Regions from separate parts of the Homo sapiens genome. Here region 2 is linked to region 1. Evidence: fine-mapped expression QTL. A gene starts in region 1. The other region holds a variant in brackets. All regions are shown on one strand. Distances are from middle to middle.

The links. PIP is the estimated chance that this variant, and not a neighbour inherited with it, causes the effect.
Region 2: its variant is the best candidate, but not a certain one, in a credible set for the expression of SLC25A46 in tibial artery (GTEx, PIP 0.90).

What each region holds. Positions count from the first base shown.
Region 1 is chr5:110,736,789-110,742,179 of GRCh38, reverse strand. It overlaps SLC25A46 (solute carrier family 25 member 46), which reads right to left and starts at 3,173. Exons shown (of 8, transcript NM_138773.4): 1 at 2,778-3,173; 2 at 91-133. The coding sequence starts at 3,060. It also overlaps a transcript of TMEM232 not described here. RefSeq lists enhancers at 835-1,334, 1,335-1,836, 3,081-3,150, 3,161-3,290, 3,541-3,590.
Region 2 is chr5:110,713,456-110,718,846 of GRCh38, reverse strand. All of the region lies in intron 1 of TMEM232 (transmembrane protein 232), which reads left to right. Among named protein-coding and RNA genes, the nearest start is that of TMEM232, 11 kb to the left of the region's middle. The variant A/G (reference allele first, on the strand shown) is at 2,504.

The DNA.
Region 1 (5,391 bases):
AAGCAATAATAATCATTTAATATTGTAAATTAAAGAAAAACTCTAAATTCAATAAATAAAAGCTGTAAACGTCTTTAGATAAAACATTACCTTGCAAGTCCAATACCAAATCCAGCAAATCTATTCAGCTGTTCTAAAGTAAAAAAAAATAGAAATAAAAAAATAAGATTACTGATAACCAATTACTGACAATTTAGGTTTAGTCTCAAAACAATTTTAAAAAATTTATTTTATTAACCTGCTGTTCATTTAAACCTCAAAGTCAAATTCTGATAGGGGCCAGGTAAATAATTTAAATGAATGAAGGACTCTGCTGGGGTCTGTGGCAAATTGCAAGGTGTAGAGTGTTTAAAGCACAATTACGCTTTCACTCCAATTCATTGTTGCCACATTAGAGTGTGGGCCCAGGGTTTTGAAGTTGTAATTTTTTCAAAAAAAGATATTCTCATTTTATATAAAAGCTTCCAATTTTAAAGTCCTGGACAACTATTTCAAAAACTGTTAACACATTGTCTTGGCCTAATGAAACAAATATCCGGACAGAACCTAAGGGCTACCAGTTTTCAGCTTCTGATTCCAATCAAATAAAAAATTTTCCATGGTTGGCCGCAGCTGATATTCCACCTGCGACTTTACCTCTTATGCTGTAAAACTAGTTATTCACTGTTACTGACGGAGAGCACTTTATTAAACCAATAACTACAAGTAAAGCACCTCTAAATTATTAACTTGAAAGGGTACTTAGGGATAACCAAAATGGGTAAATACAGCTCTCCCCCATCTCTTCAAGTTTTAAATAGTTTGAGGCTAGCTGTTTAATTAATTGGAGTAGGTTACTGGATACCTAAATGCTACTACAGATGGTATGTCTGTTATGTTACTGGAAAAGTTCACAGCTGGGAACATTCCTATGCATATGTCAAAAGAGAAAAGCCTTTCTTCTTGACTAAACTCAAAGTCATAGTGGTGAACTATTACAACCCCAGGGGACCAGACATCAAATTCTAACTATAATACAATATTCACAAGTTACAATTCTTTCTCTCCTCTTCTCTTTCAAGTGAAGCAACTGCCCTCACTATTCCCTTTCAATCAGAACAAGGCCACCTAAGCATGTTCCTGGGAAATTACGCAGTTTACCCTAGAAAAATGTATAAGCTAAATAGAAAGCTTCTTTTACCCACCTACGGTACTTTTACCTTAGATTTTACCTTTTTTTGTTTGTTTTGAGACGGAGTCTCGCTCTGTCGCCCAGGCTGGAGTGCAGTGACGCGATCTCGGCTCACTGCAAGCTCCGCCTCCCGGGTTCACGCCATTCTCCTGCCTCAGCCTCCCGAGTAGCTGGGACTACAGGCATCCGCCACCACGCCCGGCTAATTTTTTCTATTTTTTAGTGGAGACGGGGTTTCATCGTGTTAGCCAGGATGGTCTCGATCTCCTGACCTCGTGATCCGCCCGCCTTGGCCTCCCAAAGTGCTAGGATTACAGGCGTGAGCCACCACGCCCGGCCTTACCCATTTTGTATGTATAGATCATCCCCAAATAGCAACAGAAAATGCTACTAGCATTTTCTGGAAGGTGTTAGGAAGGTTTAATCTTGTTTACTGTGTAAGTCTCTTAGGTGTCTATCTTTGTTGCAAAATTAACATTCACCCACCTGTTAAGGCTGCAAAATAAACCCCTGCTTGTGTCAAGGAACTCCTCCTCATTGTAACCACCAAAGCATAACTTTAAACCGGGAAGAGTCAAAAAGCTAATTGTATGACAATTAGCTAGGTAAGTCATCTATCTTTCTTCACATCCTCATTTACTCACTAGACATTCGTTAGTCTGTTCTTCTTAGTTAAATATTATTGTACTTCCAAGTCAAAGTCGAGGAAATAAGAATAAAGCTGATTTCTACAATAAATTTAATATTAATACCATTAATCTATTATTCTAACAATTCCAGAAGAATAGAAAGAGGTAGCCATTATTCACATTTTATGAATAAAAAAGGATGTTGAAAATATCTACATCATGCAGTGTTGCAGCTTTTCTGACATCCCATGGAGAATAATTATGTCATGATTCCGAAGTCCTATCTTGAAATTGTATCAGTGTTTCTAACTTTTATATGTAGTTTTTAGGTCAGCAGAAGGAAAGCAGAAAGGAAAATTATAGGAAGGAAACTTTCTAGACTGGGGATCTGAAAAGCAGACAAAACTCCTGTGTTCAAAAAGGAAAAGGAAGGAAACTTTTTTTTTTTAGCCTATGTGTCCCATACAGGATTCTTCTACACATCTTAAAGATGAGAAAACTGAGGGCTCACAGAGGTTAAGTTGTTCAGATTACGAGTGGCACAACCAAGTTTGAACCCAAGTATGCTTATGCTGAAAGGCTTCTCTTTTCAGAACACAAAACTACAAGTAAACACATTAATTAATTAATTAAATCAAGAAAATAGAGCTGCCAAAGTGAATCAGGGAACAGTTAATAATCCAATCTCCTTTTTAACTCAGACCATCAGTTGAGACACCAAAACCTCTAAAAATTCCTGCTATGCACCCCATAGCTAAGGCAGATGTCTTTTTTGGAGTTGATCCAGGAGAATTCGTTTGTGAGGAAGAGGAGGCCAGCCTCAGGGGCAGAGGACCAAAGGAGGGCAAAGGGTGTGGCGCGCGATAGGATGAGAAGGAATAGGAGGCGGGATCCTCTGCGCCGCTTCCGGGGTCTGCAGGCCGCAAGCCGCGGCCCCAGTAACCCCTCATCCCTGTGTCGGTCCCCATGCTTCTCACCACTGCTCTGCCCCTGCACACTGCCGCCGCCGCCACTGGAAAAGGGTTCCTCCGTGGGGCCTTCGTACGGGGTGGAGGTGGTGGGCACGCCGTAGGGCGGGCTCTTCTCGCCCCAGTGCAGGTTGCGGCTGCCGGGGATATCTGGGGGAGTCGTCACCCAGTGGCCCAGGTCCGACCCGGTGCTGAAGGACCTTGCAGGGAAGGCGCCGCCAAAGCCCTGCTCGTCCCGGGCACCACCCCGGTAGCCCAAGCCATCAAATCCGTCCGGGCGCCGCGGATGCATCGCAGCGGGGGCAGGATGACGCGAGCCCGCCCGGAGCCCACCACCACCGGGGCCACCACGACCTAAGCACACACAGCTTCCCGTCGGCCGCCGCCGCGTCAGGGGTAAATTCTGACAACCGGAAGTCACGTTGGAAACCCGGAAGTCTTCGGAGCACGTGATTATAGCCTCTTCCGGCAACCATTAAAGGGCACGGTTGCTAGGGAGACGCGGCGGTAACCTGGACCTTAAAAGTTTGTTGTCGTTAGGGAATAGGTGGGAATATGGTTGTGGGATTAATGAAACACAGTACCAAAGAGATTCCAGAAAGAGAACTGGTGTAGGAATAGGGCCTGCATGGGAGGAGTTCAAAGATGCTTCTTGGAGGGAGCCGATAACCCGCGGGTGGAGCCTACCCGGTGAGATCCCGGCCAGAAATACCCCATGTCACAGCTACGCCCCAGATCTCAGTGTTTTCTCACGGGCCTGGTGCCTCGCCTGCTCCGAGGAAGCTAGTAGAGGTTGGAGTTGTGGAGGGTTAATAACGTTCCACCTAGCTTTGTCTCCCGCACTTGGGGTTTTGGATCAAATCTATTGAGAGATATGGTACCGCCCAGTGAACGCGAAAGTACTGTGGACCACCAGAGCAAGCATTTTAAAAGTTGAAGTGCACGTCGGGGGTGAAAGAAACCCACGTACTCGAATACTGTCCTCCTGGAGTTAGAAATTACGCGTTTTCCTTTTCTAAGGCTGTAAAGAAACTATAGTTTTCTGTCGTATTTTTTTCTGATGTGTCTAAATCACTCAGGGTATTGAAATCCCAGTTATATCGTTCAAAATTGGGACCTCTAATTGAATAACTGAGAGGACTACTGTAGAGCGTCCCCTACTACCTGTTTTCATTAGCTCCACGGGCTCTTGGGCCAGGCTCCCTCCCCAGATCTGAGGAAGACTTCCATGGTTTCATCCTATGTTCCTTCAACTCGTTGGAAGCCCAGGATTCCTAGAGCTTTTCCAAGAGAACTCTGACGTGCAGTTCTCGATCTTCCAGATGCGAACCTTGATTGAGAGTGATAATCAACTTTGTTTTGATTGAACTGACATTTTTTTCTGTGGTTTTATCACTTTTTATTTTTTATGGGTGTATAGTAGGTGTATATATTTATGGGTTACATGAGATATTTTGATAGCGTACATTAAAATGTATAATTAACATTTTTAAATAACGAATTGACATTCTTAAATTTGATTGCGATGCAGCTTGGGCAAAGGTGTTGAGTCTCTTGACTGTATAAAATTTAAATGTCCATATAGTAAATTTTAAAATATATAGTAATCACAATTGAAAGGCAAATCACAAACAGAAAAATGACATTTTAACATGGTTTAAACAATGGAACAGTAGCTTTAATGTACAAAGAGTTCATACCAATGAATAAAGGCAAATCAGAAATATGAGCAAAGGACATGTAGAGGCAATTCATACAAAAAAAGGAAGTGTAAATAGATAATATCATATAAAAAGTCCTTTACTAATTGAAAAAAGGTAAATCTTAATTATCTTTCACGTATTAAGGTGTTTAAAAGGGAAAATGCACATTGTCTTTCCAGGTGAGAAGAAAGTAGCTTTCATTAATTTCTGAAGTGATATAAAACATAACTTTCTGATGGAGAGCAGTTTGGCACTATGTATCAAAAACTGTAAAAATAACCATATTTTTTGACTCCAAAATCTTAGAAAACAAATATAGGGGTTTTTTACATGTTTCTGGCATGGATAACATACATATGTTTATGGCATGCTTGCTCATAATAGGAAAAAAATAAGCAGGAATGCAAATATCAAATAATTATTATTGATTAATAATTTATTATTTAAAGTGTATATCCATACAGTTGTTTAACAAAAATATATTTATTAAGCACCTATCTCGTGTCAGATACTATTTTAAGCAATAAGGATAGAATGATAAATAAGCCAGACAAGGTGCTTGCATTGTTAGAACTGACATTCTAGTTTAGGGAGACAAAGAACAGATAAATATATCCTGTCAAATATAGTGCAATGTCAAATAATGACATGATTGTATTAAAAAAGCCTAAGTGAGCAATAAAGGAAGCTTTTTTTTTTTTTTTTTAGAATAAGGAAGTCCTCTCTGAAGAAGTGACCTTTGAGCAGAGAACTGAATGAAGTGAGGGAGTGAGCCATTTGTGAATATGTGGGAGAAGTTTTCCAGGCAGAGCTGAGCAAGAGAAACGCCCCGATAGCAAACTAGGTAGCCAGTGAGAAAGGGTGAAAGTGATAGGAAATGAGAGCTGAAAGGAGGCTAGGTGCCAGATCTTGCAAAGCCT
Region 2 (5,391 bases), 23 kb after region 1:
TGTACTTGAAGATACAATAATAGAGTTGAGTGCATCCAAAGAAAAGAGAAGAAACAAAATGAAAAAAATGAATAGAACCCTTAGAGAAATATGGTAACCCTTAAGCACACCAACTTTCATGTAATGGGAGTGTTAGAAGAGAAGAGAAAGAGAAAGGAGTATAAAAAATATTCAAGGAGATAATGGCAAAAAACTTCACAAACACTAAAAAAAAATTAATCTTCACACCTAAGAAGCTCAGTGAACTCCAATTAGGATAAATACAGAAGAAATCCACTCTCAGACGTTTCATAGGAAAAATGCTGGAAGCTAACTGCAAAGAGAAAATCTGGAAAGCAGCAAGAGATAATGACTCATCACATACAAAGAACATAAATAAGATTAACAGCTATCCAGAAATGCTTCTCACTCATCACATACAAAGAACATAAATAAGATTAACAGCTATCCAGAAATGCTTCTCATCAATATAATTTTGCAATTTAATATTTTCGCCTTAAGATGTATTCTGTTTTGAAAACTTCATAATAATCCTGGTATGGATACAGTTCTTAATCACCTATCTGAAAGCCTTGGAGGTAGACTTTTGGAATTCAGATTTTTTCTGATTTTTAAAATGATAACACAGAATATCCCCAATGAAGTCTATCTAGCACGGCATTCTATAATCAAATACATAAACATATTTGCAAACAAATATATGTAGATTTATACTAAATTTGACAAATATGTATAATTTTAATATTACAGTTTATATAGAAATAAACTGACAAGTGAAATAATTGGATAATTAAAGACCAAAAATATTCAGATCCTTCTTAGTTCTAAGAAAAATATTCAATATACTTTTAAACACATACAGATTTGAACTAAGTTAAAGACCTTGTATTAGTCCATTCTCACTGCTATACACATACTACCTGAGACTGGGTAATTTATAAAGGAAAGAGGTTTAATTGACTCACAGTTCCACATAGCTGGGGAGGCCTCAGGAAACATGCAGTTGTGGCAGAAAGCAAAGGGGAAGCAAGGACCTTCACATGGTGTCAGGAGAGAGAAGAGTGAGGAGTGAAAGGGGGAGAGCCCCTTATAAAACCATCACATCTCCTGATAACTCCCTCATTATCATGAGAACAGCATGGAAGAAACCACCCCATGATCCAGTCACCTCCCACCAAGTTCCTCTCTCAACATGTGAGGATTATGGAGGTTACAATTCGAGATGAGATTTGGGTGGGGACAGAGCCAAATCATATCAGACCTGTATATAAACACAATGACTTAAATCGTACCTTAGGTTGCTTAAGGACATTGGGCAAGAGGACACATCAGTTTTGCTATCTTTGTTGTCAGATGGGATTTGAGCAACTTATGATGGGATGGAAGCAGAATTACTGAGTAATGAGTTAATACTTTGATAGTTGGCCTTTTAAATGACTTTTTCAAGGATCATGTCAAATCAGCATGGGTCCAAGTATTAGCAACAGAGTAAATGGCGTCATTAAAACTGAACTCATTCAGATCTTGGATTCTTGGACCTCTGTTAACTACAGCTAGCCCACAGTTAAAGAAAACTTTATACTTTTATTAATAGAATATAAAATTTCATGGCCATATGTCTTTGTCACGGATGTTACATTGTGTGTGTGTATGTGGCGGGGGGTGGGGTAACAAATACTGAAAATGTTACTTTTTACAAGAGGACCAGGAGAGGATATAAAGGGCAGTTGTCTGAGAAGAATAAATTTTACAGTTTTTGTTCTAGTCCAGATTGCCTATAATGACCTCATGTCCCTGGTACAAAGTGGTCTTTCAACTAGTCTAGAAATACTCTGATTATCCCTACTTTATTGTCTGCTTAGTGATGGATAGACAAATTGCTGTATACTTCATACACTGTGTGCATTGGCTTTTTGTAATTACTGTCCAGTTTATCCTGTACCATTGCTACACACACAAAAAAGCCAACCAGTGCTTAGTGTCCTTAAAACCTGTAGCTTTTCTTCCTCAGTCATGGTTAATGTTCTTCTAAAACACAGCACCAGTACAGAACTGTTTCTTCAAGTTTAGGACTAAGGTTTAGTTGGCAAAAAGAGTGACAATCTGTAAAACAGGGATCCCCATAACCCTGGCCACAGACTAATGCCGTGGCCTGTTAGTAACCACAGCAAGAGGTGAGTGGTGAGTGAGCAAATGAAGTTTCATTTGTATTTATAGCCACTCCCCTTTGCTTACATTACCACTTGAGCTCTACCTCCTGTCAGATCAGCAGCAGCATTAGATTCTCATAGGAGTGCAAACTCTATTGTGAACTGTGCATGCAAGAGATCTTGGTTGTGAGCTCCTTATGAGAATCTAATGACTGATGATCTGTCACTGTCTCCCATCGCCACCAGATGGAACTGTCTGGTTGCAGGAAAACAAGCTTAGGTCTCCCACTGATTCTACATTATGGGGAGTTGTATAATTATTTCATTATTACTTACAATGTAACAATAATAGA[A/G]ATAAAGTGCATCGTAAATGGAATGCACTTGAATCATCTGAAAATAATTCTCCCACCCCATCTGTGGAAAAATTTTCTTCCACCAAACTGGTCTCTGGTGCCAAAAAGATCGGGGCCCCCTGCTGTAAAATATTTGAAGAAATGTATTCTGAGCCAAATACGAGTACCCATGGCCCATGACACAGTCCTCAGGAGACCCTAAGAATATGTGCCCAAGGTGGTCAGGGTACAGCTTGGTTTTATACATTTTAGGGAGACATGAGGCACCAATCAAATACAATTAAGATATACATTGGCTTGGTCTAGAAAGGTGGGACAACTCAAAGCTGGGAGTGGTGGGTTCCAGGACATAGGTAGATTTAAAAATTTTCTGATTGGCAATTGGTTGAAAGAGTTATTATCAGTAGAAAGGAATGTCTGGTTTATAATAAGAGGTTATAGCGACCAAAGTTTTATCATGTAGATGAATTCTCCAGGTAGCAGGCTTCAGAGAGAATAGATTGTAAATATTTCTTATCAGACTTAAGGTCTGTGTTGATGTTAAATGCTGGCCAGCTTTCCCTGCATTCCAAAAGGGAGGAGGTATAATGAGGCATGTCTGACCACCCCCTGCTTTCCATCATGGCCTGAACCAGTCTTTTAGGTTAACTCTGGAGTGCCCTGGCTGAGAGGAAGGAGTCCATTCAGATGGTTAGGGTCGAAGCGGGCTTAGAATTTTATTTTTGGTTTGCAGCTTTCATCAGGTATCACCTTAGAAAATGTATTAATGTAATTGTCAGCAGAATGTATTTTCATAAAGATATTCGGATATTTTATATCAAGAAGCTTCCTAACTTTCTACAGCCAGTCTTTTGAATATTTACAGTGACATTCAGTGTTCAGTTCTTCATGACCAATTCTGTCTTGTTTAGTGAGCCACAAATCAATCATTTCCTCTATTCAGTTTAGTATTATTTCTTATGTTCACTGGTCATTTACATTTAGTCTCTATACTTTTGCTTGCTTTTCTTAGTCCTTTTAATTACAAAATTTATATTTCTTCAGCCTATGGTTTTTTTTCATAATTTCTTTAATTACTGTTTCATCTCTATTGATTCCTTCGCTCCTTCATGAATGACCTAAATGACATTGATTTAGGCTGGTTAGATTACAAAACAATTAAAAGCCTTCATGTTCTTTTATGGTTTTGAAGAGAAAGAATTGTATTTTTAGCTACTTTCAAATTTTAGGTATATTGTTTATTGGATAAAGTTATTTATATTCTTTGAATGAAGGGGCAAAAATAGACAAGGAACCCTGTTAAGAGACAGATATGTGTAAAATATGTCTTATTCATATTTAAATTTATATTTGTCTATTCTCTAGCTCTTGTCATACTTTTACAGAATGTGATATTAATCAAACTTTTTTCTTGAGTAATTCTCCTAAAATCACCCCAGCATTATCATGGAATTTAGGATCTTCAGATGTGATAATGTTAGTTTATAGGTCAGTCCTTTTTCTCTAGATTTAATTTCCTAAGGAAAGGCACCATATTTTAATTGTATTTGTATCTCTCAAATACAGAAATCTCAAACATTATTATCACTTTTATGTTTTGTGAAAACTGAATCAAATTGAGTTTTCTAAATGACAGTCACTTAAAATGAATAATTTGAATTCTATTTGGTAGTGCTAAATATAAACTGGTCAAAAATAATTCTTTATTTCTAGTTTGTGTGTGTGTGTGTATTTCACATTGTGTATTGGACATTGTGTCAACTAAAAGGTTAAATAACAGACATTACACCTTAAAGAAATTTTAAGTTAATTTTATTCTAAGCCAATTTCAAGGATTAATAGCCTGGGAAACACAAACTTACCCCAAACTGAGAATATGTCCTCGAGTGGGCTATACAAGGCACAGTTCTATTACACAGAAAATAGGAGAAGGGGAGCAGTGAAACAAAGGTGACATTCTTTCTATTTTGATTGGTGTTCAGAGACTTTATACAAAAGATAAAGCAAATATGTAGTTACCACTGTATATAGGGTTAATGAGCATATAGGTGTCCTAGTCTCTGGAGGGAGATGATTGATTATATCCTGTTTTATCTGATGGACAAGGTTGTAATCAGTACGTGTCAATGAAATGTTTGACAGCCTCCAGCCCTGCAGCAGGGAGTTCCAACTTGCCAAATTATACTCTCAGTTAACAGACAAGATAAACTTCCTGTGGCTCAAAAGTAAAAGGAGACCCAAGAGTCCATGGCAGGGTGAGGGGTGTAGTCACACTCTCTGTCCTTAGAAAGTATTGCAAAATTTGTTTTTCTGCAACCAAGTCAAGGAATAGTTCCTGAAAAACAATTGCAGCTGGGAATTCTTCAACTGACCATTAAAGACCACCTGATGCCAACCCACCAACCACCTGGAACCAGCCAACTAAGAGAGGCTGGTGATTTGGGGTTTAAGTTTTCCCATCAAGACTGTTCCTCACTGCCCTGACTACAGTTCTTTGCACTGCAGTTTGCCTTTATAATTTCTAACTCTCTGCCACCCAGCTTGGGAGTGCACTTCTGTTTTACAGAAGGCTGCATCTCCCTAATCTGAAGATTGATTTTTTTTAAGAAGATAAAGCTGTCTTTTTTCTCCATAGATCTCGTGGTCTTTTGTTAACAAGCTTTAGTTTATAGGCCAAGTTTTTGTTATCTGTATGTCAAATCAGCAGACATCTTGGGTCACTTAAATTTTGTTTTTCAAATTTTGAAATGAATAGCTTTATTGCTTTAGCTCATAAACTTAAGTCTTATTTTTTTTTCTTATGGGTGCATAGTAGGTGTATATATTTATGGGACACATATTATATTTTGATACAGGCTTGCAATGCATAATAATCACAATATGCTAAA